4 linked regions of the Homo sapiens genome follow. The protein of the gene in region 1 interacts with the protein of each later gene in a biochemical or structural test. Each region holds a gene or a part of one and is shown on either strand. Other genes may lie near its edges. The genes, in order: MAPK8IP1, DUSP16, MAP3K11 and MAPK9.

Region 1 (8,132 bases):
GGGCAGAGGCAGGAGCTGGACTAGGGCTTGGCAGTGAGGAAGCGGAGCCATGTGTGAGGAGACACAGATGTGTGCAGGGGGGCTGGGCACCATGGCTCACGCCTGCAATCCCAGCACTTTGAGAAGCCGAGGCGAGCAGATCACCTGAGGTCAGGAGTTCAAGACTAGCCTGGCCAACATGGTGAAACCCTGTCTCTACTAAAAATACAAAAATTAACCAGGTATGGTGATGCACACCTGCAATCCCAGCTACTCAAGAGGCTGAGGCAGGAGAATCACTTGAACCCAGGTGGCAGAGGCTGCGGTGAGCCAAGATCATGTCATTGCTCTCCAGCCTGGGTGACAGAGCGAAAGGCCGTCTCAAAAAAAAAAAAAAATATATATATATATATATATATATATATGTGCAGAGGTCACTGGCAGAGCAGGGGCATTTCAGGGCACCTCTGGGTCAGCGGTCCTGCAGCTCTCCCATGCCATCTGAGTACCAGGGGCTCCCTTTTGCACCACTGGCCTTCTCGGTGACCATCTGGGCAACCAGTGTGAATTGAACACTTACTTGGTGCTGGCCACTGGGTTTTTGTCCCTGAGCCTGAGATGCCACCCTGCCCTGGCCGGACGGAGGAGGGCTGCTCTGGCTTCTGGGCCAGGCCCTCCTCCCCACTTCCACCCCAGCTGGCCAGCCACACCCTCCCCATGGCCTGGGGAACCACCACCCTTGGGCTGCAGGTCAGACGTGACCCTACAGGGCACCTTGTCCATCCAGCCCCCATTCCCCACCCCTCTGTGCAGTGCCCTCCAGGGGCCTCCAGGTTCTGTTTATGTCATTCCAAAGGGAGAGGAAGCTCATTACCACACAGCAGCCCTTCCAGCTCTGCTCTAAGGGCCCAAACACTGGCCTGCCCTTAGCTGTGGCTCTGGTGCCTCCTGCTTCCATAGGCCCTGCCTTCCTGGGTCCTGAAGGCTCAAGCTCTGGCTGCAGAAGGAGGCAGCCCAGATCAAACCCAGTTTGGATGCAGCCTGGGCCCACAGAAGCCTCTCTGATGAGGTCGGGGGGCTGAGCCTATGGCAGTGCAAACCGAGTGTTCATTCTTAGGGTGTTTGGGAAGCCCCCCTTCATCTCCCACCTGGCACCCTGACTGGGGAACTGGCCCTTTAAAGCCAACCAAGGGCTGGCTTTTGGGGGGAAACATCCTAGATTTCTGCCATCTACTTACAAGCCTGGGCCAGGGAGGGGGGGCCACTCAGCCCCCGACAGGGGCATTGGAAGGGCAGGTGGAGCCAGTGGCATTGATTGCAGTAACCTGATCCCGTGAGGGAGGCGGCCACAGCGGCAGCAGCGCAAGGGCCAGGCCAGCCGGGAGGAAGGTGCCTGCAGCTGAGGGCTGCGCTGGGAAGAGCTGGGGCTGGGACCCGGGTCGGCAGCTGCAGCCTCCTCTCCTGGCCTGTCTATTTTTAATGAGCTCCCCAGGCTTCTGCAGCAGGCAGGACGCAGAAAGACAGGCCCAAGCGGTGGAGGCCAGAGGCCCCCAGCCCTGCCTTGAGCCCTGGCCCCCCCACCCTTCCGGGCATGAGAGGGCAGCCCTGGGGCCCCGCAGCCCCCCGGCCGGGCAGGGCTCTCCATGCAGCTGGTGCTGAAGATGGATTCGAGCCCAGACAATGACAGCTGGTTGGAGGATCAATGGGAGCGCTGGTAGGGGCTACCGGGGCTGGCGGGGGTGGAGACCGAGTTGGGGTGAGCTCCATCGAGCTCAGGGTCTCTGATCTGAATGAGGCGAGTGGCAGGGAGTCTGGGCCTCCTAGGTTCCCCTGGGGGCTAAGCCACCATCTCTCCTGGGTGACCTTGAACTAGTGGGTTTCCCTTGCTCTGTGCCTCAATTTCTTGGACTTATTTGGGAAAAGGCTCATACATTCTCCCCAACTTCCTAAATGTTCTACCCCCCCACCACCCCCCCAGCAAGCCAGGCAGAGTGCCCAGGACCTAGAGGTGAGCAAGAGACAGGCTGCCTTGCAGTGGCTGGCCCAGCCCTGCATTCTGAGGTGGGGACTCAGGGCTGGCCTAGGGAGAGGGGGGTTCTAGTGGAGCTGGTTAGTATTCTGGTGCCCTGGTGCTCTGAGCTGTCTCCCAAGGTTGTAACACCTCTGGTCCCACCTGGGGCTTCTCCTGACCCCATCTGTGCAGCCTCCTGTTCAGGGTCCTTACACTGGATAAGGAGAAGATGTTGTGGTTGAAGAGATGAGACCACCAAGTGCACAGCATGAGGCTGGAGTCCTTTCTGGAATAGGCTGAAACTACCCACACTGACACCAGATTTTCCTTCGCTTGTTCCCTGGGCTCAAGGGGCATGAGTCTTCCTGAGCTGGGGCGTGGGGCACTCCTCTGAGGCTGCTGCCGGCGCCTCGGGTCTTGCTACTGCAGGGATTGCACTGGGAGCTCCCCTACTCCAGGCTGCTCTTCTCAAGTCCACATTCTCCATGGTGAACTGGCCTTGGCACCTGCCTTGACCCTGGGAGGAGGCTCTGACCAGTTGGGCCTTCTAAGCACTGCCTGCTGGTTGGCAACAGAATGACAGCTTCCAGGGAGGAGCCAGAGTGACCTGGAGCCTCCTCTTCCACTGCCACCCTAGGAGGACTGCCTTTTGGCACAAGCCCCTCGCTCTTTCCCTGCCTGCTGACCACCCCCTGCATTGATACAGATGAACCCCAAATCCTGTCCTCTGGGGGCTGTGTTTGGCCTTCAAGAGGCTGCACCCTGGAAGAGGTAACAGGGAGATGTGAGCAGGCATAGTGCCCCTGAGTTGTAACTTTGGCTTCCTGTCCCCACCAGGCTCACCCATGACATCAGCCTGGAGGAGTTTGAGGATGAAGACCTCTCGGAGATCACTGATGAGTGTGGCATCAGCTTACAGTGCAAAGACACCCTGTCCTTACGGGTAAGGGCAAGCTCCCAGGAGCTCCTGAGTGGGGTGGCAGGAAGGCTAGGGACAGGGGTAAGGGTATCCCCATAGTGACAAAGGGGGTTTCAGGTCTGTGCTGGCACCCTCATGAAATGAAATGATGTGCAAGAAACATAGGTATACTGCTTGGCACGTCTTGAGTGTACAATCAGAATTTCATTTGGTATTATTATTATTATTACTGCTGTCGGGGACTAAGACAGGAAGTAGCTCCTTCAACTGCCCACGAGATGGGAGAGGCCAGGAAGTCTTGAGACCTAGGGCAGTAACAATTAGGACCAGACTTAAGGGAGACTCAGGGCTACCCCTGAATCCTTTTGGGAGCAGCCCTGGCAGAGGGCCTGAGGCAGACAGGGTGGAGTCTGGTGGAATCTGCAGTGCTTTAGGGCAGGAAGAAACAGCCAAGGCACCCCTGGAATAGCTCCTGTGGCTGCTGGCTGCTATTACACCAGACAGATGGCACCACGCGGCCTCCCAGACCCTCTCTGGCCTATAGTCCTAAAGGCCCCCACTGAGGGGTTTGCCCAGCATTGCTGCTGGTTTGGGCCCCTTGGCTTTGTCATAGGGAAGATGGCTCTCTCCTGTCCCTAAAGATCTGAATGCTGCCAGGAGGTCCCCAGCACCTGGGTAACTGGGGTCAGATGGGGATCCCAACTATGTCTTTTCAGAACAGGAAGAAGGGGCCGGCTTGCCAGGAAATGGAGGACAGAGCACAGGGCTAGGTTTTAGAGCCCAGAGCTCCTCTGAGCCCCCAAGAGGGCGGGTAGCCAGATACGGTGTCAGGAGAGTGGTTACCATAGGAGCGTGAGGTGTGCCTTGGGGAGGGAGTACCTGTCTCTGTGTTGACCTCCTGCTACTCCCAGAGACTCAGTAAGCTCTGCAAGAGGAAACCAAGGGGTGAGGATAATCCCCTAGTCCCCAGTACCCCAACCTTCCACTCTCTGGCCAGGCCAGGAAGAGGCAGAGGCCTCTAGATTTGGGGAATGGTCTCAGAGCCCTGACTTAGCTTCTCAGAGGTCAGGCACCTGTTCTGGACTCTCACCCTGCCCTCTCCCCCAGCTGCACCAGCAGAGCCTTGGAGAGGGTTGCCTCCGAGCTAGGCAGGGGCCCCAGGCACTACTGGCCAGAGGTGTGCCCCTAAGGGGCCTCAGACAAGCTCCAGCGGGCTTCACACACGTTCCAGTGAATACTCAGCTCTCTCAGAGGCTGGGAGGCAGTAGTGTTATCCCCACTCAACTGATGAGGGGGCCTGAAGGATCAGGGGATCTGTCCAAGGTGCCAGGGAGTTGGCGGCAGAACTGGAGCTAGATGGGGCTCTGCATCCTCAAGGCAGGCTCGTGGAGGACCGATCTAGGGCTGGAGGGGCCCCGGGCCAGCTGGCTTAGGGCGCGGCTGCCACCGCCTTGGTTCCTGGCCCCCGCTCGCCCCTCCCCCTCGGCGTCTCCTTCCCATCCCTCTCAGGTCTCCGCCGTTCCTTGCTTGGCTGAGCCTCAGTTTTTCCAGTTTTCCTCAAGACCCCTTCAAATACTATTTCCCCAACCCCCATCCCTTGCCCACCCCACCCCGAACTCCTTGGCGACCACTGAGTCCCCATAGCAACAGCGGTGACTTCACTCTGGGCTCGGCTTACAACCCCGGTGAGGTCACCGGCCGTTGCCAGGGGAACGGGAGGGCGCAAGGAGTCCGGGGTGGGGACTGTGGGGAGGTGCTGGCCGTCAGAGGCACGGCTGGATCGGGGAGGCGGCGGCCTCGCGCTTCCTCGCGGCGGACGGGCGAGAGCGCCCCAGTCTCCGGCGGCCCCTGCTCGGCTCCCCTCGTGCCCCCTTCGCGCCACAGAATGGACTCGCCCGGGCGGGGGGCGGTGCAAGCGGCCTCGGCCCCGCCCCGGCCCCGCCCCCTGACGCCCCTCCGTGCGCTGTGCAGCCCCCGCGCGCCGGGCTGCTCTCTGCGGGCGGCGGCGGCGCGGGGAGCCGGTTGCAGGCCGAGATGCTGCAGATGGACCTGATCGACGCGACGGGGGACACTCCCGGGGCCGAGGACGACGAGGAGGACGACGACGAGGAGCGCGCGGCCCGGCGGCCGGGAGCGGGGCCGCCCAAGGCCGAGTCCGGCCAGGAGCCGGCGTCCCGCGGCCAGGGCCAGAGCCAAGGCCAGAGCCAGGGCCCGGGCAGCGGGGACACGTACCGGCCCAAGCGGCCCACCACGCTCAACCTCTTTCCGCAGGTGCCGCGGTCTCAGGTGAGGCGCCAACGTGGGGGGCGGCGCCCTGGGCCGCCGCGGAGATGTGAGGGGGAGCGCAGAGGGGCTGCAGCGGGAAGGGGCACCCACGGGTCCAGTGCCTGGGGACAGCGCCTGCATAGGGGCCGCGGTGGCTCGCTCCCGGTGTTGGGATCCGAGGAGCGGGCAGAACCATCCTTACGAAGAGGGGGCTGAGTCCAGCTGGCCGGGCTTGGAGCCTTGAGGCGGGATTGAAGGAGGGAAGGACTGGGGTTAGGAGAGGAGTAGGGAATTAAGAGAATGAGGCTTTGAGGGGTTCGAAGGGTTTGGAGCCTGGGACCTCAGGCTGTGACAGGGTTTCTCCTTTAGGATATGGGGCTCCTGGTGAAAGTGGAGCAGGAGCAGGGCCTGGAGAAAAGGGCATCTGAAATGGTCATCGTGGGGGAGGCCGTGGGAGATCGTGGCGAGGTGGGGATGGGAAGCTCAGGGGCCACAGCCAGTTTAAGATCTGGGCAGCTGCGAATTCCCAGAAGGCAGGGGGGAGGAATGGGAGATGGAGCTGCTTGGCTAAGTTGGGGACCTAGGGCCCCTGGGAGGGTGGCTGGATGCCAAGGAGAGTTGAATAGGGTTGGGGGAGCTGGCTGTGGCCCTTTGTCTTCCAGGCCCATCGGGAGCGGTGCAGGCAAGGAGCTCCTGGGAGGTGGGGCGGCTGGGGCTGCGGGGAAAGGCTTGGTCCCTTTCCCAGGATCCTGTGAATGGCTTTTGGCAGCCCGGCTCAGGAACGTGAGGGCTTGGGAGAGAGCTCCCAGGGGAGGGAGCCTCCGTGGAGTGGAGGGAGCCCTGTGTGGGCATTGTGGGGAGGGGTCCCAGGGCTGAGAATGTAGAATGGGCAGCCCAGGAGATCCAGGAAGGAGGGCTGCTGACAACTGCATCTGTCACTCCTCAGTCTCATGCCACTGTGGTGGGGGGTGCAGGAAAACTCTGTTATGGATTTGTCACTGGGATGATTCATCCTGGTCCCCCAGGCCAGCTGCTAGGGAGACCCTTCCTTGTGCTTTTTCCAGGCTCTACCAGAAGGTCCTCACCCCTTCTAGGCCATAACTTCCCAAGCTCCAGAGCAGAGAGTCACCTGTCTCTGACTTGGGCTGGATTTGAGCATTTTCCAAGTAACCCTCAGTACCTGGGACTGGGGGTCTGACTGTGTCTCCAGAGAGCTCCTGCTTCTCTTCTCCCCTGCCTCCTCCCCCTCTTGCCACCACACACATTGGCCATCACCACCTTTGTTAAGGCTGATAAGAGCATCTCCCTGAGGGTTGGCCAGCTTCCCTGAGCAAGGCGGAGGGCCATCCAGAGCCGGCAAGCCTGGCTGTGACTTGCCACCCTTCCTGCCTGCTCCAGAGGAGAGTTACGAGTGAGGCCTTTGACAGTGGAGGCGGGGTGGACACAGCAAATGGCCCTAGGGATGGCCTGAGGGGGCAGGGCCGGGGCCTCCCTGTGCCGGGCACTGTTGACCACTTCCATCACAAGAGCCTTTTGTTCCCTGCACAGGACACACTGAATAATAATTCTCTGGGCAAAAAGCACAGTTGGCAGGATCGGGTGTCTCGATCATCCTCACCCCTGAAGACAGGTAAGTCAGGGCCCTCTTCCTTACCTGGACCTCCGCCTGCCCTGACTCAGTCCCCACTACAGAGAGCAAACCCTACAGTCTCCAAAGGGCTGAGTAGAGGTGAACTGCCCACCCACATCCCTGCACGAGCCCATCCAGGGGCTGAGATCAGTGGTGGCATGAGTGAGTTGACTGGCCCCAGAGCCTGCGAAGGGCCTGTTGCCCAGGGAGGCTTTGTCTTGGTTTCTGTGTCACCAAGCTGAGAGTGGCAGGTGCAGGTAGCTGGGAGTTGGGAGAGAGCCCCTGCCTTCATGACCTGCCTGCTCTCCAGGGGAGCAGACACCACCGCATGAACACATCTGCCTGAGCGATGAGCTGCCCCCCCAGAGCGGCCCCGCCCCCACCACAGATCGAGGCACCTCCACCGACAGCCCTTGCCGCCGCAGCACAGCCACCCAGATGGCACCTCCGGGTGGTCCCCCTGCTGCCCCGCCTGGGGGTCGGGGCCACTCGCATCGAGACCGAATCCACTACCAGGCCGATGTGCGACTAGAGGCCACTGAGGAGATCTACCTGACCCCAGTGCAGAGGCCCCCAGACGCTGCAGAGCCCACCTCCGCCTTCCTGCCGCCCACTGAGAGCCGGATGTCAGTCAGCTCCGATCCAGACCCTGCCGCCTACCCCTCCACGGCAGGGCGGCCGCACCCCTCCATCAGTGAAGAGGAAGAGGGCTTCGACTGCCTGTCGTCCCCAGAGCGGGCTGAGCCCCCAGGCGGAGGGTGGCGGGGGAGCCTGGGGGAGCCGCCGCCACCTCCACGGGCCTCTCTGAGCTCGGACACCAGCGCCCTGTCCTATGACTCTGTCAAGTACACGCTGGTGGTAGATGAGCATGCACAGCTGGAGCTGGTGAGCCTGCGGCCGTGCTTCGGAGACTACAGTGACGAGAGTGACTCTGCCACCGTCTATGACAACTGTGCCTCCGTCTCCTCGCCCTATGAGTCGGCCATCGGAGAGGAATATGAGGAGGCCCCGCGGCCCCAGCCCCCTGCCTGCCTCTCCGAGGACTCCACGCCTGATGAACCCGACGTCCATTTCTCCAAGAAATTCCTGAACGTCTTCATGAGTGGCCGCTCCCGCTCCTCCAGTGAGTCAGCAAGGGGAAGCAGTGGGGTGGGGGGGTCCCTAGCGGGGGCAGAGCCAAAATGCGAAGTGTTCTGGGAGGCGACCCCAGGCCCCATCTGGTTAGGACTGAGGCTTCTACCTGCCCCGCTAAACCTGGATCAGAGCTGCGACCCCCCATCCAGCCACACCACCTCACCTGCAGGTGCTGAGTCCTTCGGGCTGTTCTC
Region 2 (4,214 bases), on another chromosome or scaffold:
ATCCAAGAGAAATGATCCTATCCAAAGCTGATTCACAAACCCACGCTCACCTGACAGCCGAGGGACACGAGCATCACTCTGCTGGACGGACCATTAGGGGCCTTGCCAAGGTCTACCTTAGAGCAAACCCAGTACCTCAGACAGGAAAGTCGGGGCTTTGACCACTACCATATCTGGTAGCCCATTTTCTAGGCATTGTGAATAGGTAGGTAGCTAGTCACACTTTTCAGACCAATTCAAACTGTCTATGCACAAAATTCCCGTGGGCCTAGATGGAGATAATTTTTTTTTCTTCTCAGCTTTATGAAGAGAAGGGAAACTGTCTAGGATTCAGCTGAACCACCAGGAACCTGGCAACATCACGATTTAAGCTAAGGTTGGGAGGCTAACGAGTCTACCTCCCTCTTTGTAAATCAAAGAATTGTTTAAAATGGGATTGTCAATCCTTTAAATAAAGATGAACTTGGTTTCAAGCCAAATGTGAATTTATTTGGGTTGGTAGCAGAGCAGCAGCACCTTCAAATTCTCAGCCAAAGCAGATGTTTTTGCCCTTTCTGCTTCACTGCATGGATACAGTTGGTAAAATGTAATAATATGGCAGAATTTTATAGGAAACTTCCTAGGGAGGTAAATTATGGGAAGATTAAGAAAGGTACAAATTGCTGAGGAGAAGCAGGAAACCTGTTTCCTTAGTGGCTTTTATCCCCTCGGCATGCGATGGGGCTGATGTTTCTATGATTGCCTCAGACTTTCACATTTACTAGTAGGGCTGAGAGAGGCTTTAGTGAGGAAGGAATATTCAGAATAAAACGGTTGAGAAAGCTGAGAAGACCATTGAGTTTTGATCAGTTGTGAATAGAGTGCAAAGCCATGGCCAAGCTGTTTTTGGAAACGCTGGCCGGCGTGTCTTCAGTGGAAAAAGCAAATCAAAATGGAGCGAGAGCAAAGGGGCGTCCTCAGTCCTCAACCTACAATCACTGTATGGAATCGGTCCTGGCAGCTGAACATAGGAGGTCACTGGAACAAGTGATAGTGCAGATTGGCTTTCAAACATCCTCCTGGCTTGAGTTTTATCAGCTACAATGTGGGTCCTCTTTTGAAGCCTTAATTCACAACAGCAGCTTTTTGGGGGTGGGGCTGGGCGGGTGTTGTCATTGTTCTTTCCCTTCCTGTAAGTGTCGCTAGTTGCTGCCTCGTATCTCAGGTTTTTCTCTGTTTTTGAGAAATGGACAGTTTTTTGACCAGGATGTGACTTCATGTTTCCTATGGTGACTTCTAAAACCAGCACAGAATGATATGACTCAACACAGACCGACTTGGTTATGGGGATGATGAGCCGCACAGACCTCACTAGTTGTGCACAAATAATGTGCTATGATGGGGTGTAAAGTGAAGGCAGAAGAGGGTCAGCCGCATTGTTATGATACTGGGAAAGTGCTGGTCAACGATTTGAGTTAGTTTTTAGATATACATTGAAATCTTTAATCAGACATTCTCAAGTTTCACACAGTAGTTTTTGATGTTATGTACACACACACCAAATGTGTAACAGTTCACCACTTCCAGAGTGTGGTCATGCCCAAAACATGTTTAAGAAAGGAAAGCAGTAGCTCCTTGCTAACGATGTTTCAGGAGGTTTGGGGGACTTGGTTTTAATGAGCTTCTGTCATTTAGGGCTTCTCTTGGCCATGGTCCCCCTTCCTTCTGGAACTGTGATGTAGTCACATCCTACAGCCTTTAGTGCTGGTTCACTAGTGTCAGATAATCAGTTCTTGGAATCGAGACTGCCGTGGCGAAGGGGTGGCCTCGGAGGCAGGCTCTGGAGCTGCTTGGATGTCTTTAGGTGGGGTGGTGGCTGGCTCTCTTCAGCATGTAATTGGGGAAACCCTCGCGTCTACTAGGGGTGATACAGATGGTGATTTTAAAGAGCAAAACTAGACTTCTATGTGAGAAGTGCTGGAAAATGATTTAGGACATGTGTAAAGTTAGATGGAAAGACTGTAAATGTTTAATATGAATATAGTGTTCTTTTGAAGTAAGGCCAGCTGTTGAACGGTTAAACTGTGCATTTCTCATTTTGATGTGTCATGTATGTTAATGTATGAAATGATTAAATAAAATCAAAACTGGTACCTGTTTATACATAAATACGAGAAAAGACCTATCTTTGCAGCCATAAACTCGGTGGGAACACCACCACTCAAGTTGCCAAAGGAGGCAGTGGTGAAACCTGTCCTGTTCTCACTTAAATGAGGATTTAGCTCAAAATAAAGTGGTGGTGTCATCAGGTTTATTCCGTGTTCTGTCATTCACATGGAACACCGGATGATTAGCTAACAGTTTAGTGCCAGCCTTCATTCTTTACTGTGTACGTTAAATGCACACTACAGTGAAAAAGCCTAAGACACTTGGTAAATATTTTCTAGCTGACTGATTCCAGAACACACAAGTACATGGTAGGAAAAAAAAGGCCAGCTACACACACATGGCCCATTTCGATATAACATGTAAATGATGTTACGATTCCTACAGGAAAAACAGGAAGGGCAATTGTTGAAGAGCTGTCCTTTGTCCTTGCCACATACATCTCAACAACCTCTCTGCTCATGACACTAGATTTGATGACTTATGAGACTAGAAACTTAGTCTCATCAGTTTCATAAAAATTAGGCATTGAAGGAATAAAGCTTCAGTGCAAACAGATGGAATATTGACTACAGAAAGAATCACAGGTGACCTTGAAGTTGGTTGAGTTGAAGTTACATTTAAGAAAATTTATAAGAAAGATTGGGCCGGGTGAGCTAGACTAGAAGAGCTATCTTGGCCAGGACCCTGCAGAAAAAGAGGTGGAAGTGAGATAGAGGAATAAAGGGAATTAGAATAAATCAGCCTCCAGAGATAGAGGGTAACAGGAGGAACAGTTGTTTCAGTGAGAGGCTTCCAATGAGAAGATGCAGATCTTGGGAGAGCCTGAAGTTCAGGCCAGTTGCTGACAGTGCTCGGAGCCCCTTCATGACCAGCCTCAGCAGGCTATTGTTGGAGGACTGGTTTGGATGTGACAACTACAATTAGACCAGGAATTAAACTAAGAGGGGAGGCTGGGGGCGGTGGCTCACGCTTGTAATCCCAGCACTTTGGGAGGCCAAGGCAGGTGGATTACCTGAGGTCAGGAGTTTGAGACCAACCGGGCCTACCTGGTGAAATCCCTTCTCTACTAAAAATACAAAAATTAGCCAGGTGTGGGTGCCTGTCATCCCAGCTACTTGGGAGGCTGAGGCACGAGAATTGCTTGAACCTAGGAGGTGGAGGTTACAGTGAGCCAAGATTTCGCCATTGCACTCCAGCCTGGGCAACAAGAGCGAAACTCCATTTTAAACAAAAAATAAACTAAGGGGAAATTAGTGAGAGGTGACAGCGCACTGGCAGCCCTCACACCCCTCACTCACTCTCAGCACCTCCTCTGCCTGGGCTTCCACTTTGGCGGCACTTGAGGAGCCCTTCAGCCCGCCGCTGCACTGTGGGAGCCCCTTTCTCGGCTGGCCAAGGCGGAGCCGGCTCCCTCAGCTTGCCGGGAGGTGTGGAGGGAGAGGTGTGGAGGGAGAGGCATGGGCGGGAACCGGGGCTGCGCACGGTGCTTGCAGGCCAGTGCGAGTTCCAGGTGGGCGTGGGCTCAGCGGACCCTGCGCTCGGAGCAGCCAGCTGGCCCCACCGCCCGAGCAGTGAGGGGCTTTTAGCACCCGGGCCAGCAGCTGCTGTGCTCAATTTCTCACAGGGCCTTAGCTGCCTTCCCACAGGGCAGGGCTCAGGACCTGCAGCCCGCCATGCCTGAGCCTCCCCGAACTCCGTGGGCTCCTGTGCGGCCTGAGCCTCCCCGAGCGCCGCCCCCTGCTCCACAGCGCCCAGTCCCATCAACCAGCCAAGGGCTGAGGAGTGTGGGCACAGGGCGTGGGACTGGCAGGTAGCTCCACCTGCAGCTCTGGTGCAGGATCCACTGGGTGAAGCCAGCTGGGCTCCTGAGTCTGGTGGGGACTTGGAGAACCTTTATGTCTAGCTCAGGGATTGTAAATACACCAATCGGCACTCTGTATCTAGCTCAAGGTTTGTAAACACACCAATCAGCACCCTGTGTCTAGCTCAAGGTTCGTGAATGCACCAATCAACCCTCTGTATCTAGCTACTCTGGTGGGGCCTTGGAGAACATTTGTGTCTAGCTC
Region 3 (8,132 bases), about 20 Mb from region 1:
GCCAACCATCCTACCCACTCTTCTCATCCCTGGTAGGGTGCGGTTCCCACCTCTCAGCCTCAACCCTGGGCTCTAACTATCTAGGGACCCCCGCTACCTGCCCCAATCTGAGGGGGATTCCCCGAAGGCACAGGGGGAGGGGACTCCCATCTTCTGTTTTTCCTCCGTTTTCTTTCCAGAAAAAATGGAACAATAGCCCAGGCCCCTGCTCCCCACCCTCCCCACTGCTTCCTGCGTTTCCTGCTGCCCCTGAGCCGGCTTCCTGTCCCTGCTCCAGCCCCTGCTCCCTCCCTAGCCCAGCTGCCTGCAGGGGAGGAAAGAGCTTGGGGTGGAGGACTTGCGGGAGGAAGGAGCCTGGAACTGCTCCCCTACTCCCCTCTAGTTCCCCTGCTTCCCTCTCAGAGTCTGGGAGGTGGTGGTAAAGGGCAGGCAAGGTGCCCTCAGCCTCCCTGAGCCTGGCATTTAACCTCGGAGACCCCAGTCCTAGGCCCAAGTTGCTGTCTGCAGGATTGGGGTGGGGGGAGTCCCTGGGCTGGTGGGGGGCACAGGCAGGAAACAATGGCATGATTTTCCTGGACAATGGGGGCCTTGTGAGGAAGCCTGGCGGGGAGAGGAGGGGGAATTCTCCAGGCCCACGAGTCACAGGACTGACCAGCCAGCCCGGCCTGGGCCTGACCTCCCCCAGTTCTCCCCAAAAGGACTCCCCCTCCCAAGTGGGAGACCTGGCCCAGGCCTCCCAGAAAGGAGAAGTAGGGACCACGGGAGGAAAGCGGAAGAGGTGTGAGCTGCCCAGGCCACTCCCAAGCCCCACAGAGGCCAGCCCAGGGAGGGAGCTGGTGGCCAGGTCCCTATCAGAGGCCAGGGAGCCCTAAAGGGGCACTGAGAGCTTCCCCCAGTTTCGGGGTCTCTGGCCCATTCTCCTCTGGGTGACCCCTGACCTCCCATGCCTGGGATCTACATCAGACACCAGAACAGCAGTTCGAGTTGGGACAGTTGAAAGCACAGAGAGGAGCTTGGAGAGAAAGCAGAGGATGGGGCTTAGCAGCTGGCAGAGCCAGGAGCGGGGAGGTAGCAGAAAGACCACAAGTACAAAGAAGTCCTGAAACTTTGGGTGAGTTGTTGCCCCTCTCTGGGCCTCAGATTCCCCACCTGAAAAAGGTGGAGAGTGGCCACCCGGCCTGAGATACTGGAACAGCACTTTGCCAGTCTGGGGTGCCACAAGTGGCTAGAGACAGGCCAAGAAGCAGCAAGTGTTGGTCTTCAAAGGGGAAGGTGGGCCCTGGCACCAGGGGAGGTGCCCATTTCCACTCCACCCACTGCCCCAGCCTGCTGTGTTTCCCCTTTGGAATGAGCTTGTCGTCGGGGGCTTGCTAAATGCTCAGGTCCCCGCCTCCAGCAGCCAGACCAGAGGCTGTTTTGAAGTTGGCAGTAAGGAGTGACAGAGGAGGGAGAGGAGGGCGGAGATACGATAAGTGCTTTAGGACAACTGGCCTTTAGGATGCTTCTGCCAGGTGGCAGCCCCCATGCAAAAACTTTAAAAGTGTGGTCTTGTTTCATGCTCGTGACAGCCATCTGAGGAGGGTTTTGTTGTCATCCTCAGCTTGATGAAGTGTTCAGGACTCAGCTCCAAGGTCTGGCTCAGAGGAGTGGGTAGATTTTGAGACCATTCTCTGGATTAGGAAAAATTGCAGGAAAATCTACTGGGCATGCCGGGATAGTAAAGGTGGTCATGGAGGGCACCTGGACATCAGGTAGAGCTGCTGAACCAATTTGTCTGGCCTGGAGTTGCAAATGTGGAAGATGCCAGTGGGGAGAGGGAGCTGGTACCTGGAAGAGGCTGAGTCAGCCAGGGGCAGTGGGCAGAGGTTGAGGAGAGGTCATGCTCTGAGAAGCACCAGCGCCGAAATGGCTGAAGGTGGAGGACACAGAAACAGAGCCAAGCAGCCAGGGGCTGTGGGGGCTGAGGACGGTGGGGCAGCGGGGACAGCTGGCAGCAGTGCCAGATGCCTCCTCAAGGCCCAGGTGGCCTGGCCAGCAGCAGGATCAGGGCTTGTTGCTTTAAGCCCTGAAAAATGAGCACCCTGGTTCTGCCACCTCCTCTGGGAAGTCTTCCCTGACTCACCAGGCTGTATTAGGTGCCCTTCCCATCTGCCCCACCCCCTGTGCCCTATGCTGCCCCCATGACAGCCGTGTCACACAGGGCAGGAGAGCTGAGAGGTGTGCCCTGACATGGGTCCAGAAACATGGTTGACTTGATATTGCTTCTCTTCCACAGTGCAGTTGGCTGTAACCTGAAAAGTAGAGGGGCCCTTCAGACCCTTCATGACTCTATGACTTTGTCCTCTTTCTATTCCTCGAAAACTTCTCTCATTTGAGCCATTCCTGTCCTGGTGAGAGATATGCAAGTTGCTGCTTCTCCTCTTTGTACCAAGTACGGTGGCCCCATTTGGGTTAAAGCCATGAGCCCCTGCCAAGTCTGACCATCCACGCCTACATTTACCCCAAGCTCCTCCTTTGTGGCCAAGAACCATCACTTTCTTGGACCCCACCCTTTCTCTTCCCTTCCAGCTGCATTGGTAGGTATCTTTTGGAGTCTTTGCTTTGGGAGTGGCTGCACTTGCCACAGTGTGATGTGGGCACTAGGGGCCTGTGGTACCTGCTGGGCTTCTTTTCTCACCAAGAGCTTCCCTCTTGCTCCCCACTCTAAGGGGGGTTCTGATTCACGCTCCTGCCTCAACAAAATGACAGGAGACTCACAGATCTCTCTTGAAATCAAAGCCATAAATGTCCAGAGCTGCCACCTTGCCAGTTTTGCTTCAGTGTAATATTAGGGAAAAGCTAGAACACTGGTTTCAGAGCCACACAGACCAGGTTGTAATCTCTGCTGTATTTGTTGTATGACCTCTGCCAAGTCATTTCCCTGCTTGGTTTCCTCATCTGTGAAACATGAAAAATATTATTTAGCTCATAAATGGTTTTGAGTGCTGGGGTTGAGTGTGAAATGTTTGGCCTCGGCCAGGTGCAGTGGCCTGTAATCCCAGCACTTTGGGAGGCCGAGGCGGGCAGATCACCTGAGGTTGGGAGTTCGAGACCAGCCTGACCAACATGGAGAAACCCTGTCTCTACTAAAAATGCAAAATTAGTCGGGCGTGGTGGCACATGCCCATAATCCCACTACTCGGGAGGCTGGGGCAGGACAATCGCTTGAACCCAGGAGGTGGAGGTTGCAGTGAGCCAAGATCACGCCATTGCACTCCAGCCTGGGCAACAAGAGCAAAACTCTATCTTAAGAAAAAAAAAAAAGGAAAAGAAAAGAAATGTCTGACCTCAAGTAGGTCCTCAAGATCTAGACCAAGTCACCTCTGTGCCCCCAGGACCCAGCCAGGATGTCCGTCAGATGAGTTTGCTCCCAGCTCTTACCCTGTCCCCACCACCTGATCCTGGAGCATCCACAATCTGGCCCCTCTTCTCTAGTTTTGCTGCTGCAGCCCATTGAGAGTGACGACATGGAGCACAAGACCCTGAAGATCACCGACTTTGGCCTGGCCCGAGAGTGGCACAAAACCACACAAATGAGTGCCGCGGGCACCTACGCCTGGATGGCTCCTGAGGTTATCAAGGCCTCCACCTTCTCTAAGGGCAGTGACGTCTGGAGGTGCGGCCCTTGGTGGGGCTGGACGGGCTGCTACGGGGCTGCAGAGGGCAGAGGTGGCTGCCTAAATCTAGGGCTGGGCCAAGTCCAGGGACAGGGACCCAAACCACTTGGCTCCTAGTTGCTTTTGGGTGAAGTGGCAGTAAGGGGGTGGGGGTTGGGAGAGAAAAGGGAACACAGACCTGTTGTCTCGCCCACAGTTTTGGGGTGCTGCTGTGGGAACTGCTGACCGGGGAGGTGCCATACCGTGGCATTGACTGCCTTGCTGTGGCCTATGGCGTAGCTGTTAACAAGCTCACACTGCCCATCCCATCCACCTGCCCCGAGCCCTTCGCACAGCTTATGGCCGGTAAGAGGACGGGGAGGGCAGGTGAGGTACAGAGCTCCCTGGCCCAGGACACATCCACCCACGGACCCCTTCTTATTCTGTCCCCGCTGCACGCCGTGCCCCTAGACTGCTGGGCGCAGGACCCCCACCGCAGGCCCGACTTCGCCTCCATCCTGCAGCAGTTGGAGGCGCTGGAGGCACAGGTCCTACGGGAAATGCCGCGGGACTCCTTCCATTCCATGCAGGAAGGCTGGAAGCGCGAGATCCAGGGTCTCTTCGACGAGCTGCGAGCCAAGGAAAAGGTGCGAGGAATCAAGGGACCCAGCGTTGGAACGAGTGTCTCCCCGATCTCCCTGGGGCAGAGTCGGGGCGGGCGCTGCCGGGATTGGTGCCAGGCTGACCTCTCCACCATCGCTGTCTCGGGCGCAGGAACTACTGAGCCGCGAGGAGGAGCTGACGCGAGCGGCGCGCGAGCAGCGGTCACAGGCGGAGCAGCTGCGGCGGCGCGAGCACCTGCTGGCCCAGTGGGAGCTAGAGGTGTTCGAGCGCGAGCTGACGCTGCTGCTGCAGCAGGTGGACCGCGAGCGACCGCACGTGCGCCGCCGCCGCGGGACATTCAAGCGCAGCAAGCTCCGGGCGCGCGACGGCGGCGAGCGTATCAGCATGCCACTCGGTGAGGGCCGGGCCCCGGGGCGTCCCCCGCCATTGGCTGCGGGGGTGGGGGTGGAGCCAGGCCTGTGTGCTCACCGCGCTGGGATTGGTTTAGGGTGTTGTGGGTGGGCCCGTGAGATGAAGGCTGGGAGGGGTGGAGCCAGGAGTGTTTTTTTTCTGTCTGTGGGCGGGTTCTGGCGGAAGTATTTGCATGTCGGTCTGGGAGTGGGAAGGGGTGGGGTTCACGAAAGTTCTGGGAAGGTCTAGTGGGCGGGGCCGGCCGGCGCCAGGGCATCTCCGACTCAGACGAGTAGCTTTCCTTATCCAGACCCAGGGGCTCAAGAAAGCAGTGAGGCTGGTCACAGTCTCACAGCCATCGTGCCGCTCCCTATGTGGCCTGGGAGCTGGCCTTGGGCCCCTGCAGGTTGGGGTCCTGGCTCTACTTCATCACAAACCTGAACCCTGCTCCCCCCAACCCAAATCCCAGACTTCAAGCACCGCATCACCGTGCAGGCCTCACCCGGCCTTGACCGGAGGAGAAACGTCTTCGAGGTCGGGCCTGGGGATTCGCCCACCTTTCCCCGGTTCCGAGCCATCCAGTGTAAGAAACTTCACCTCTCATGCCCCTCTCCGCCCCCCAGCTCCTTATTCTCTGTCAGACCTTATTCTTGGAGGCGGAGCCCACTCACTATCCCCTCTTCCTCCCCGCCCCCAGGCTCCCTGCCTTAGGTCTAGCCTGTTACCTCTGAACTCCCCAAGCAGCATTAATTTTACTTATTTTTTTTTAGTCAAATAATTGTATGACACTATGTACTACTAATTTTCTAAATGCTTTGCTAATATTAATTTCTTGCAATAATTCTATTTGGTAGTTATTTTTGTTGTTAATTTAAGTTTTATGGATGAGAAAAGTGAAAAAAGTAACTTGTTACACAGTTAATAAGTGGAAGAGCCAGAATCAAACTCAGGCAGTTGGTGTCAGTGTCTGTACTAATTACTAAGCAGCAAACTTCAGCCCAAGGGCTAGATGAGATGCCCCACCCCACTGTTGGCCCCAAGACCCAAACCCATCTATCTTGCCCAAAGCTCACCCTGGGAATGGTACAGGGCCCAGCCTGCTCCCCATACTCTAAAGTTTATCTCTGAAGCCTGACTGTGATGATGGAGGGAGAATAAAGATTATCTCCGATTTCATCGGTTTCCCCTGCAGTGGAGCCTGCAGAGCCAGGCCAGGCATGGGGCCGCCAGTCCCCCCGACGTCTGGAGGACTCAAGCAATGGAGAGCGGCGAGCATGCTGGGCTTGGGGTCCCAGTTCCCCCAAGCCTGGGGAAGCCCAGAATGGGAGGTGAGTACCTGAGTGCCCCCCAGACCCAGCATCATTTGCTTTCCCCAAGTCCTGAAATTCCTAAAGCACCCCTCCTTGCCCTCCCATCACCAGGAGAAGGTCCCGCATGGACGAAGCCACATGGTACCTGGATTCAGATGACTCATCCCCCTTAGGATCTCCTTCCACACCCCCAGCACTCAATGGTGAGTGGCCTTCCTCCCCCGGCAGGATCTGGCTGAGCTCCTTCCGTGGGCACCTTGGGGAGGCCACAATAGGCTAGTAGGCAAAGCAGGAGTCCTGCCCTGGTTGCTCTCATTCTAGAGACTAGGAAACCAAGGCTGAGACAAGACAGAGCCGATCCTGGAACCCAGGTCTGACCTACAGGCCCACGATCAAGCGGCATACAGCCCAGGCCTCGGCTCGGGGCCCAGAGTCTCATCCCCTTGCTCAGACCTGGCCTGCAAGAAGCCTCTTCCCTGGCCCCATGGCAGCCCCTGTGCCTTTAGCAGGCTCCAGGGAGAAAAGAAAGACAGGAAGCCCACCTGGCATTTGGTACCCAAGGGAAGCTGGACCCAGATGGGGGAAGGAATCAGCCTGTGTGGGGTGGAGCCAAACAAGTGTCAGCCACACTGTGCTTCTCAGAGCCCCTTCTGGGAGCCTGTAGGTGAAGAAGAGAATGAGAAGGCCGAGCAGGCAGGATCCAGGACCCATTCTCACCACATCCAGGATAGCTCGGGGCCTTTCTGTTCTCCATGACGGTAACTGCCCTACTGTGCCAGGCATTCCCTCCAAGCATTGATGAAGAGGGGCTACTATTACCCCATTTTGCAGATAAGGAAACTGAGGCTCTGAGAGGTGAAGTAACCTACCTCAAACCCCCAGCTGAGGATTTGAACCCAGAGAGGCTTCAGCTCCAATGCTCTCGTAGTGAGCTCAGAAGCTTTCACTTGAAGAAAGGGCTTCTCACGTATAGACTGCTTAGGAAGCCAGAGGGTCAGGCAGAAGGCAGGGCTCCAGCATTGCAGGGAGGAGGGCTCACTCAGCTCAACACTGCCCAGCTCTGAGTGAGGCCAGAGAGTTATGGCCTCCCTTGCCTGTGGGTCCCTGTGCCAACCTAGGGACCATCCTCAGAGCCCCCACACCTGCTGCTCACAGCCAGAATGTAGGACCCGCTTAGCTGCTCTCAGAAGAGTCCTGTTCAGCAAGCCGTTTAAACTCACTCCTCCCATCCCACCCAGCCCATCGCCTCTTCCATTCCCTGAGCTACACTTGATAGTTGTAACAACAGCTAACCTTTGTTGGTTCTCTTCTATGTGCCAAGCAGTTCTGTGAGGGGAGTAGTAGTATTGGCCTGCATTTTACAACAGAGAAAACTGAGGCACAGAGAGATTAAGTGGTTTGATGTAAGGCAACCAGTAGAGCAGGGATTTGATCTGCTCTTGCCTGTCTGACCACAGAGGCAGAGCCCTGGGCCTCCATCTGCCCCGCCATTTGCTACTCCAGCAGCTGCACTGCCCCCAGCATCTGTCCTGCAGGGACTGAACTGAGAGCTGGAAGGCCAAGGAGGCTTCTTGAATTCACTTGCTCTAAATTGTACCAGGCCAGATGGGCCAAAGGAGAACTTGAGAGCCTGTCAACCCAGGTGTGTAGGCTGAAGCAGGTCCTGACTGTTCCACAGAACTCTCTGGCCCTCAGCTCCCAGAAGCAGGGGCACAAGGGGCCTGGGCCCCATCGTTCTCAAGCTTGCCCCATGTTTTTTTATCCAAAGAATTTGTTAATTATTTATGAAGAGAAACTACTTATTAGCCCATATATTCATGAATAGTTCAGATCAGTGACAAACTTCTAAGTAATTCAACCCAAAGAAATTCTTCATATTCCAAAATCACTTTGCATTCTGAGAGATAGCAGCCTTCCTCATCTCCTCGAAGTATTTCATGGCATCATAACTTCTGTAGACATCTGTGCCCATAGAAATCTGAAATGCCTTCTTTCTTGGTCCAGCCCCTGCAAACTGAGAGAGCCGCAGCCCCCAGGGATACAGTGAATGCTCCCACAATATGAAATTGCAGATGTGTGGCCAGAAGGCCACATGTCTGAGGTTTCATGAAAGCACTGGAAACCATGGTAGTTACTGTTCTTGATAAGTATGTCGGCCTCAACACCAGTGCCC
Region 4 (8,132 bases), on another chromosome or scaffold:
ATAAGGATTCTTTCCTGGGTCCCTCAGCTCTGAGTATTCTCTTTTGGCTTTTAACTTGTTCTGGAAGAATGACCACCAATCTATTTAATGTTTTCCTCCATTTAACTTTTTTTTTTCTTCAAAAGGATCCTGCAGAGTTAAAAACAATACTATTTTTGCATAGACTTCTCTTTTGACAGCTTTGATTTTCCTGGCAATTTAATTTTCAGGGTGCCAGGACTTTAATTTGTTCACAGATTAAAATCTGTTTATTTGGTCCCGTAAATAAACAACAGAGGGGATACTTGAATGTGTCTAAGATAAAATATTCTTAATTTTCTGGATAAAGAAAAGGACCAGACAAACCAGTTAATAGCGAGTAAACCAGTTGTTTTCATGAGGCATAAGATAAAACAGAGACCAGATTTTTTTTCTTCTTGAGACTATTGATTTGCCAATAGGGCAACTATTTTTGGTCTACATACATACAGTAGTTACACCTCACACTTGGTTAGGAAGGTGCCATTTTTACATAATTTTCCTTCAGAATAATTAATTCCTGATACTTTGTACTTGATTGTATGAACCAGTTTCAACATCATTCTTTTTATTTTAACTTTTATTATGGGAACTTTCAAACATATACAAAATAAACAGAATAGTGTCCTGCTTTAACAGTTATTAACTCCTGACCAATCTTGTTTCATCTCTAATGGTATCCACTTGCACCCTTACCACCCATAATTATTTTCAAGCAAATCCTAAATATCATGTCATTTCATTCATTATTTTTTGGGATACTAATTACACAGTGGGTGCCCAGTAAATGTTTGGTAAAGACAAAGCTAAATGGGAGAATAAATGTGGTAGGGTAGCTCGGAGCAGTGGGTAAGATCAGGACTTTGAGTCAGACTCCCAGTGGGTCTGCTGCTTATCTGGGTGATGTGCAGAAGCGATTGCACTCATCTGTAAAACATACGGGCACAACCTCAGGGTGCTCAGGAGGTGTACAGTAGTTATACTTCACACTTCGGTAGGTCTCTAAAGGTACTGACTCTTTTAAAGTTGAAAAAGTAATAATTGCTTAATATCATCAAATAACTAGTCAATATTCAAATTTCCAGCTGCCCCATGAATTTTAGGTTTCCTTAATAGTTTGAAAGTAGAGCAAGAGAAGGCCATACGTTGTTGATTGGATGATACGTCTTTTAAGTTTCTCTTAATCCATAGATCCCCCTCCTATTTCTTTGTTTTCTTGGTAGTTTATTTGTTGAAGCAATCGAGTTGTTCCTTAGCATTTCCATAGTTGGTATTTGATTGATTGCATCTCTGCAGTGTAATTGAATGTGTTTCTCTGTAATCTCTGTAAGTTAGTAATTGGATCTAGACGAGGCTTCGTCAGATTTAGGGTGCATTCCTGCATCAAGATGCCTTCCTAAGTGGGCTGTGCACTTCTTATCTAGAGGTACCCTGAGGCTCTCTGCTCGTCCGTGTTGCAGATGAGTGCAATCGCTTGCTGCACATCACCCAGATAAATAGCAGACCCACTGGGAGTCTGAAGTCAAAGTCCCGATCTTAACCACTGCTCCCAGCTGCCCTACCGCATTTTTTCTCCCATTTAGCTTTGTCTTTAACAAACATTTTTTGGGCACCCACTGTGTAATCAGTAGAGGATTGAGAAATAAATCAGACACATTTTCTGCCCTTACAGAGTAGAAGTGTAAGTAGACTCGGAATGCAATCTAAAGCGAATACTGGGAGGGTGGCAAAAATGGGGGCATGCCCAGCATGGTTTGAAGGGAAAGGCTGGAGGAGGAAACATGTAAGAGAAGCAAGTGCTTGAACTAGATTTTTGAAGGAGGGTGAATGTTGACCAGCAGGTCAAAAAGGGGAGGGAAGTCATTTCAAGCAGATGGAACAGCTTAGGCAGAGGCCTGAAGGTGTGCAGTAGCTGGGTGTGTCCGCTGATCCCAGGTGGTTTGATGTTGCCTAAGATTGGGCCAGAGGACTGCCATCTCCTGTGCTGTGCTAGGGAACTGAATCTTATTCTCCAGGCAGTCAGTCACTGTTGAAGGAGTTCAAATGGGAGAATGGTGTGATCACTGCACACTTTCAACAAATCTCTCTTTTTTCTTTCCATATTTTGAAATAATTATAGATTCACAGGAAGTTGCACAAATGGCACAGAGAGGTCCCAGTACCCTTCCCCCAGCTTTCTCCCACGGTTACATATTTACACAACTGTAGTAAAATGTCTAAACCAGGACATTGGGCATCGGAGCAAGGTGTATAGAGTTCATTGTCATTTTTTATCGTGTGAAAATTCCTATAACCACTACCACAATCAAGATTCAAAACTATGTCATCATCCCAGATATCTCCTTGTCCCACCCCCTTACAGCCACAGCAGCCCCTTTTCCCCACCATTCATAACTGCTGGCAAGTACTAATCTAGTCTGCATCTCTATACTTTTGTCTTTTCAGGAATGTTATATGCATGGAGTTATACAGGATGTGACTTTTTGAGATTGGCTTTTTTCGTTGACTATCCTGCCCCTGAGATCCACCCAAGTTGTGGTATGTTTCAGCAGTTGCTGAGTGGTATTCCATGGTATGGGTATACAGCAGTTAGTTTAACCATTTACCCATTGAAGGACAGGTTTGGGTTGTTTCTAGTTTGGCACTATTAAAAATAAAGCTGCTGTGAACATTTGTGTACATATTCTCACGTGGAGTGATTTCTCTTTCTAAAGTGGCATGTGTGCAGTGGTTCGGAAGTCACAGAAATGGTGGCTGGGAGAATGCTTCTGCTGTCGCTGGTCCAAGGAGCCACGAGAAGCCCTTACCCAGGGCCCTGGGAGTGGGGGATTGAGAGGGAAATAGGCAGGCCTGGGTGCCTGGAAGTGGGGCTGGTGACGGAGATCCTTGCAGGGTCCTATGGATCCAACAGTGGGTGAAGTGATAACCAAATGCTAGTTGTTCTGTATTGTGGTATATACTGTGGCTTAAGAACTACAGAGGATGGCCCTGAGAGCTGCAAGGTTCTTGATTATCAAAGAAAGATTACGTTGTTATACCAAGCTATTCTTCATAAGAATTACAGTAGGAGGCCAGGCGCGGTGGCTCACGCCTGTAATCCCAGCACTTTGGGAGGCTGAGGCGGGCGGATCATAAGGTCAGGAGATCGAGACCATCCTGGCTAACACAGTGAAACCCCATCTCTACTAAAAATACAAAAATTAGCTGGGTGTGCTGGCGGGCGCCTGTAGTCCCAGCTACTTGGGAGGCTGAGGCAGGAGAATGGCGTGAACCTGGGAGGCGGAGCTTGCAGTGAGCCGAGATCATGCCACTGCACTCCAGCCTGGGCGACAGAGCGAGACTCCGTCTCAAAAAAAAAAAAAAAGAAAAGAAAGAATAAAGAATTACAGTAGGAAAATAGAACTTTTTAAATTTTTACTATTTTTTTTTTTTTGAGACGGAGTCTCGCTCTGTCGCCCAGGCTGGAGTGCAATGGTGTGATCTTGGCTCACTGCAAGCTCCGCCTCCCAGGTTCACGCCATTCTCCTGCCTCAGCCTCCCTAGTAGCTGGGACTACAGGCGCCCGCCACCACACCCGGCTAATTTTTTGTATTTTTTTAGTAGAGACGGAGTTTCACCATGTTAGCCAGGATGGTCTCCGTCTCCTGACCTCGTGATCCACACGCCACAGCCTCCCAAAGTGCTGGGATTACAGGTGTGAGCCACCGCACCCGGCCAGATTTTTACTATTATTATTATTATTATTGTTTAATATAGAGTTGAAGCCTCACCATGTTGCCCAGGCTGGTCTGGAACTCTTGGGCTTAAGTGATCCTCCCACCTTCGGCCTCCCACAGTGCTGGGATTACAAGTGTGAGCCATCTTGCCCAGCTGGAAAACAGAACAATTTAATGAAAAAAATGTCGGCAGCAAGCATTGAGACAGAGGGTGATTGTGAGAATCTGCTTTTAATCACAATAGTTAGTTGATTTAAATATCGCATGTCCTGGGTACTCTGAAGCTTTAGTGTGATGAAAGGTTCACTTGAGTCTGTGGATCACTGAATCGTTGTCATCGTTAGAGGAAAAAGTGTTTTGGTAGGTTTTGGTAGGGGGAGTCAGCAAGGTGAAATGTGCAGGACTGTGTGCTGGTCCTGGCCAGCCCATGTGCAAATAGCTTCACTTTCTAAAGGGATATCAGAATGGTGCTTTGGGAGGAACTTGAATATTGTGGTGAAACACTCCTAAATTCAAATCTGAGCCATGCTGGGAATTTGGACAACTTCCTTACTGGACAACTTCCTCTAAGCCTCAGTTTCCTCATTTGCAGAGCGGGGATAGTAATATGCTTCTCACTAGTTGTTATAAGGGTGTTGATAAATGTGTACCTCAGAGCCAGGCCCACTCTCATGCCTCTAGCCTTATCTGCCTGAAGCCCGTCTTCCATACAAGTGTCAAATGATCATTCTGCAGCTTTTCATTTAACATGTGTTGTTTAATCAGTTTTTAAATGTGAAATATGTACATTTGAAAAACAGAATAGAAAGTTATAATGGGAAGAAAGTTTCTCATTTCCCACTATTTCTCTACTTGCCAGCATTGTGTATGTGCGTGTGTATGCGTGTGTGTGTGTTTACGTAGCTGGGCATTATGTGTTCTCTTCTTCAACTTGGTGTATTTCCTTTCTGTATCTTAGACATCTTTCCACATTGATACATAAAGTCCTTGCATTCTGTTGAATGGCCTTGTTGTACTTCTGTGCCATAATTTATTCAGTCCATCCACAGTGTGCATTTTAGATTACTTCTAGTTTTTTGCCTGTTACAAGAAGTGTTACAAACATGCTTGCACAAATATGTTTGGATACTTGTACACGTATTTGTCAGATACACTTAGAGAATTGTGTTTGCCAGTTTAGGATATGCAGTTAACATTTTTATTAGCCAGATCTATATTCCATCTAAAAAAATGTTTTACCACTTCTCAGCTCTCACTGACGTGTATGAAAGTGCCTGTTTCCTCATGCCTCGGTCGATACTGTGAACAAACTTGAGCTCAGGTCTTGCCTCCTCCAGGAAACCTCCTTGTAGCGTTCCCTCCCAGTTTTGAGTTGCTCATAGCCTGGAAGGGAGGCAGACCCTACAAAGGCTGTGACAGTGCAGCCTGGCGGGCGCTGCTGAGTGCACAAGTGGCAAGGAGGGAGCCCTGTGCTGGACGGATGGTGGCAGCACAGCCTGGGAGCTGAGGGGGAGGAACCAGCACCGGCTGGTGTGGGAAGTGGAGGCAGCGAATGCAGGCTTTAGTGTATTGCTAATGTGGTTTCATGAAGAATTCTTGTACTTCCCGATTTGTAAAACTGTTTTCTGAGCCCCAGTTGATGGTCCATTTTGTTGAAATATCATCTCAATAGAGTTGACTCATGAATAGCTAAATTACACACCTTCTCAGGTGGCCTTAAGTTTCTTTCTCTTGCTCTCACAAAGCCCAAACTTGACAGAGAAGGTGGCTTTAACAGGTTTTCACTTAGGTGACTTTTTTCTCCTGCATAATAAGGGTACCTTATTTTAATTTTATAATTATTTTAAATCTTTTTGTTTGTTTGTTTTTGAGATGGAGTCTCGCTGTGGCCCAGGCTGGAGTGGCACGATCTCAGCTCACTGCAATCTCCACCTCCCGGTTCAAATGATTCTCCTGCATCAGCCTCCCAAGTAGCTGGGATTACAGGCACGCACTACCACACCCGGCTAATTTTTGTATTTTTAGTAGAGATGGGGCTTCACCATGTTGGCCAGGCTGTTCTCAAACTCCTGACCTCAAGTGATTCCCCCACGTTGGCCTCCCAAAGTGCTGGGATTACAGGTGTGAGCCACCATGCCCGGACTATTTTAAATCTTGAGATGGAATTACAATTCTAAAACCTAATATGAGTGAATATACTCCCCAAATTTAAAAAAGTTAACCTAATATTGTCATAGTCCAAATATAGGTTGAAAGCAGTTATAGCAGGGAGAGTTGCAGAGTTGGTCAGCAGGGTTGAGATTGATCTGTCAGTCCCAACGTGGACACGGGGTCCTGAATGGGGGGTGGCTCTGTGCCATGAGGTAGTTAAGGAATCCAGCTGGTGGGCAGCTTTCCATCTACAGCATGTGACTTCCATCTCTGGGTCTGTGACAGCTGATCCCTCAGCCAGCAGCAAGGAAGAAAGATTGGAGGGCAAGCAGCTTTCTGTAAAGAAAAATAAAAGTGATCTGGAAGTTGCATACATCACTTCTACCCACATCTTATTAGTCAGAACTTGGTCATCTGGCCATACCTGGCTGCTGGGAAAGCTGCCAGGCGTCGTCTCTAGTTGGGCAGCCATTTATCTAGCAGGAAGGGGAAGGAAGGCTTCTCTTATGAAAGCGAGGAAGGGAGGGATGGATCCTGGAGCACCTCAGCGCCTGTGTCGCACCTCTGATGTTTTGACGGCTTCCACAGCCCTCAGGACTGAGGCCAGACGGCTCTGCGTGGCTTCTGGGGCTCATAGTGATCTGGCCTCCTTTTCTCTCTCCAGCTTCACTCGCCCTCTACCCAGCAAGTCCCTAGTGACTTGTCACATTCCGAATGTGCCTCCGCCTCTGCTGCTTCTCCTCCCATTCCCCCAAATCTTCTTCACCCTACTGGGTTTAGGACCCTTGGTGTGCAGGGCCTCCTCCTGAGTGTGCGCTCACTGAGGGCAGGCGAGTGTCCTGGCATGGTACCTCACCATCCACAGCGGGTGCTCAGTACATGCTTGCAAGTAACTGTGTTGCTGGTGTGTTGACGGCATAGCAGAGGAACAGCCACCCTCCGTAAAGCAGGTGGTAGTGGGTGCCTGCCTTTTTGCTGAGTTGTCTCTAATCCTTTGCACTTGTACCCCGCTAGCCAAGCTCAGCAGTTCGCTGTGTCTGGACACAGTCAGTTTGAGCTCTGTGGCTCTACTGTCCATCTCTGGCAAAAGAGTCTGAGGGCGGATGCCGCCTCCTCCTTGAAGCCGTCCTTGTCTTCTGCCCCTGCCAGTGGGTAGGATCTCTTTTGCCTTTTGATTTTGTTTACATTGTGCTTATGGCCCTTACCGCACTGTGACTTGTAATATAGATAATGGACTCACTGCTCGCGCTTCTCCCCCAAATAGTGAAGTACATGTTGTTTCAAGACTGGTTGCTAGCTGACTATGGCATATCTTTTGCTATACTTACCACTTTCGTGCATAAAGGTACCCCCTAAATGTTGAGTGGAATTGTTTCAGCCTCTTGCAAACTGTAAATAAGCTAATCTTTAGAAAGGATCTTCCTTTAGATATCAGTAAAATGGAGCAGCACTGTGGGGAATCAGATCAACAAAGGTTTATTGAATGCTCACAGTGCCCCAAAGACCAGCTTCCTGTCCTCCTGTCCTTGGAGTATGAGATGCCATGAGCAAGACAGACCTGCCTCGCACCTCCTATAGCTTAGAGCACAGTGACCTGCCAGCCTGGAGAGCTCCTGAGTCCCCTTCTCACAGCAGTGTGGGCTAGGCAGGTGTTCCAGCTCACTCAGCCCTAGATTGCTCCCAGGTAACACGGGACTGAGACTCCTGCGGTGCGGGTTGTATGAGCAGCTGTTTGTCCAGCATCTAAGCGCTGTGGCGTCACTGGAGTCACTCCCTGGCTGGCACGCTAACACACCTCGGCAGGAGTGGTCAGAGTGGCAGCCACACTGCAGCCACCACCCAGAGGACGGGGAGAAGACCGTGGGGCAGTGGTCACTTGGAGAAATTATTAATTTGACTCAGTTCTTTATTTAGACTTGTTATTAATCCATTTTTTCCATGTTTAAGGAAAATCCTAGCATTTGTGTTGAAATATAAATCATCACCACAAAAATCTCATTAGGTTGACGTTAAATATTAGATACTAGAACATAAAGGCAAGGGATTTGACAGAGCTGTAGAATACATTCTGTAGTCTTAAACGGTATAGAATGTTTACCTATATGATTTTATTGTTGGCTATGTAGTTTTAAAAGACCAAAATAAATAGCTTGCTGACTTTTAAATAAGCATAACCAGACACGAGCCTAGGAACCACTTGCCAATTTGTTTGCTTGTTTTCTGTATAAAATCATCCAGGCTCCTGCA

The links.
Region 2: the proteins of MAPK8IP1 (region 1) and DUSP16 form a complex in vitro, tested with the Homo sapiens proteins (one study listed by BioGRID).
Region 3: the proteins of MAPK8IP1 (region 1) and MAP3K11 form a complex in vitro, tested with the Homo sapiens proteins (2 studies listed by BioGRID).
Region 4: the proteins of MAPK8IP1 (region 1) and MAPK9 form a complex in vitro, tested with the Homo sapiens proteins (one study listed by BioGRID).

Annotation. Positions count from the first base shown.
Region 1 is NC_000011.10:45,895,258-45,903,389, forward strand, and holds part of MAPK8IP1 (C-Jun-amino-terminal kinase-interacting protein 1), read left to right. Parts: intron 1-2,827; coding exon 2,828-2,933; intron 2,934-3,138; exon of another isoform or gene 3,139-3,214; intron 3,215-3,788; exon of another isoform or gene 3,789-3,834; intron 3,835-4,194; exon of another isoform or gene 4,195-4,278; intron 4,279-4,880; coding exon 4,881-5,195; intron 5,196-6,722; coding exon 6,723-6,804; intron 6,805-7,114; coding exon 7,115-7,927; intron 7,928-8,107; coding exon 8,108-8,132. UniProt on the Homo sapiens protein: The JNK-interacting protein (JIP) group of scaffold proteins selectively mediates JNK signaling by aggregating specific components of the MAPK cascade to form a functional JNK signaling module. Required for JNK activation in response to excitotoxic stress.
Region 2 is NC_000012.12:12,472,154-12,476,367, reverse strand, and holds the end of DUSP16 (dual specificity protein phosphatase 16), read left to right. Parts: 3' UTR 1-3,086; downstream 3,087-4,214. UniProt on the Homo sapiens protein: Dual specificity protein phosphatase involved in the inactivation of MAP kinases. Dephosphorylates MAPK10 bound to ARRB2.
Region 3 is NC_000011.10:65,603,791-65,611,922, reverse strand, and holds part of MAP3K11 (mitogen-activated protein kinase kinase kinase 11), read left to right. Parts: intron 1-3,474; coding exon 3,475-3,655; intron 3,656-3,852; coding exon 3,853-4,001; intron 4,002-4,106; coding exon 4,107-4,282; intron 4,283-4,409; coding exon 4,410-4,653; intron 4,654-5,118; coding exon 5,119-5,232; intron 5,233-5,841; coding exon 5,842-5,977; intron 5,978-6,070; coding exon 6,071-6,162; intron 6,163-6,280; coding exon of another isoform or gene 6,281-6,330; intron 6,331-8,132. UniProt on the Homo sapiens protein: Activates the JUN N-terminal pathway. Required for serum-stimulated cell proliferation and for mitogen and cytokine activation of MAPK14 (p38), MAPK3 (ERK) and MAPK8 (JNK1) through phosphorylation and activation of MAP2K4/MKK4 and MAP2K7/MKK7.
Region 4 is NC_000005.10:180,281,399-180,289,530, reverse strand, and holds part of MAPK9 (mitogen-activated protein kinase 9), read left to right. Parts: intron 1-2,463; exon of another isoform or gene 2,464-2,556; intron 2,557-8,132. UniProt on the Homo sapiens protein: Serine/threonine-protein kinase involved in various processes such as cell proliferation, differentiation, migration, transformation and programmed cell death.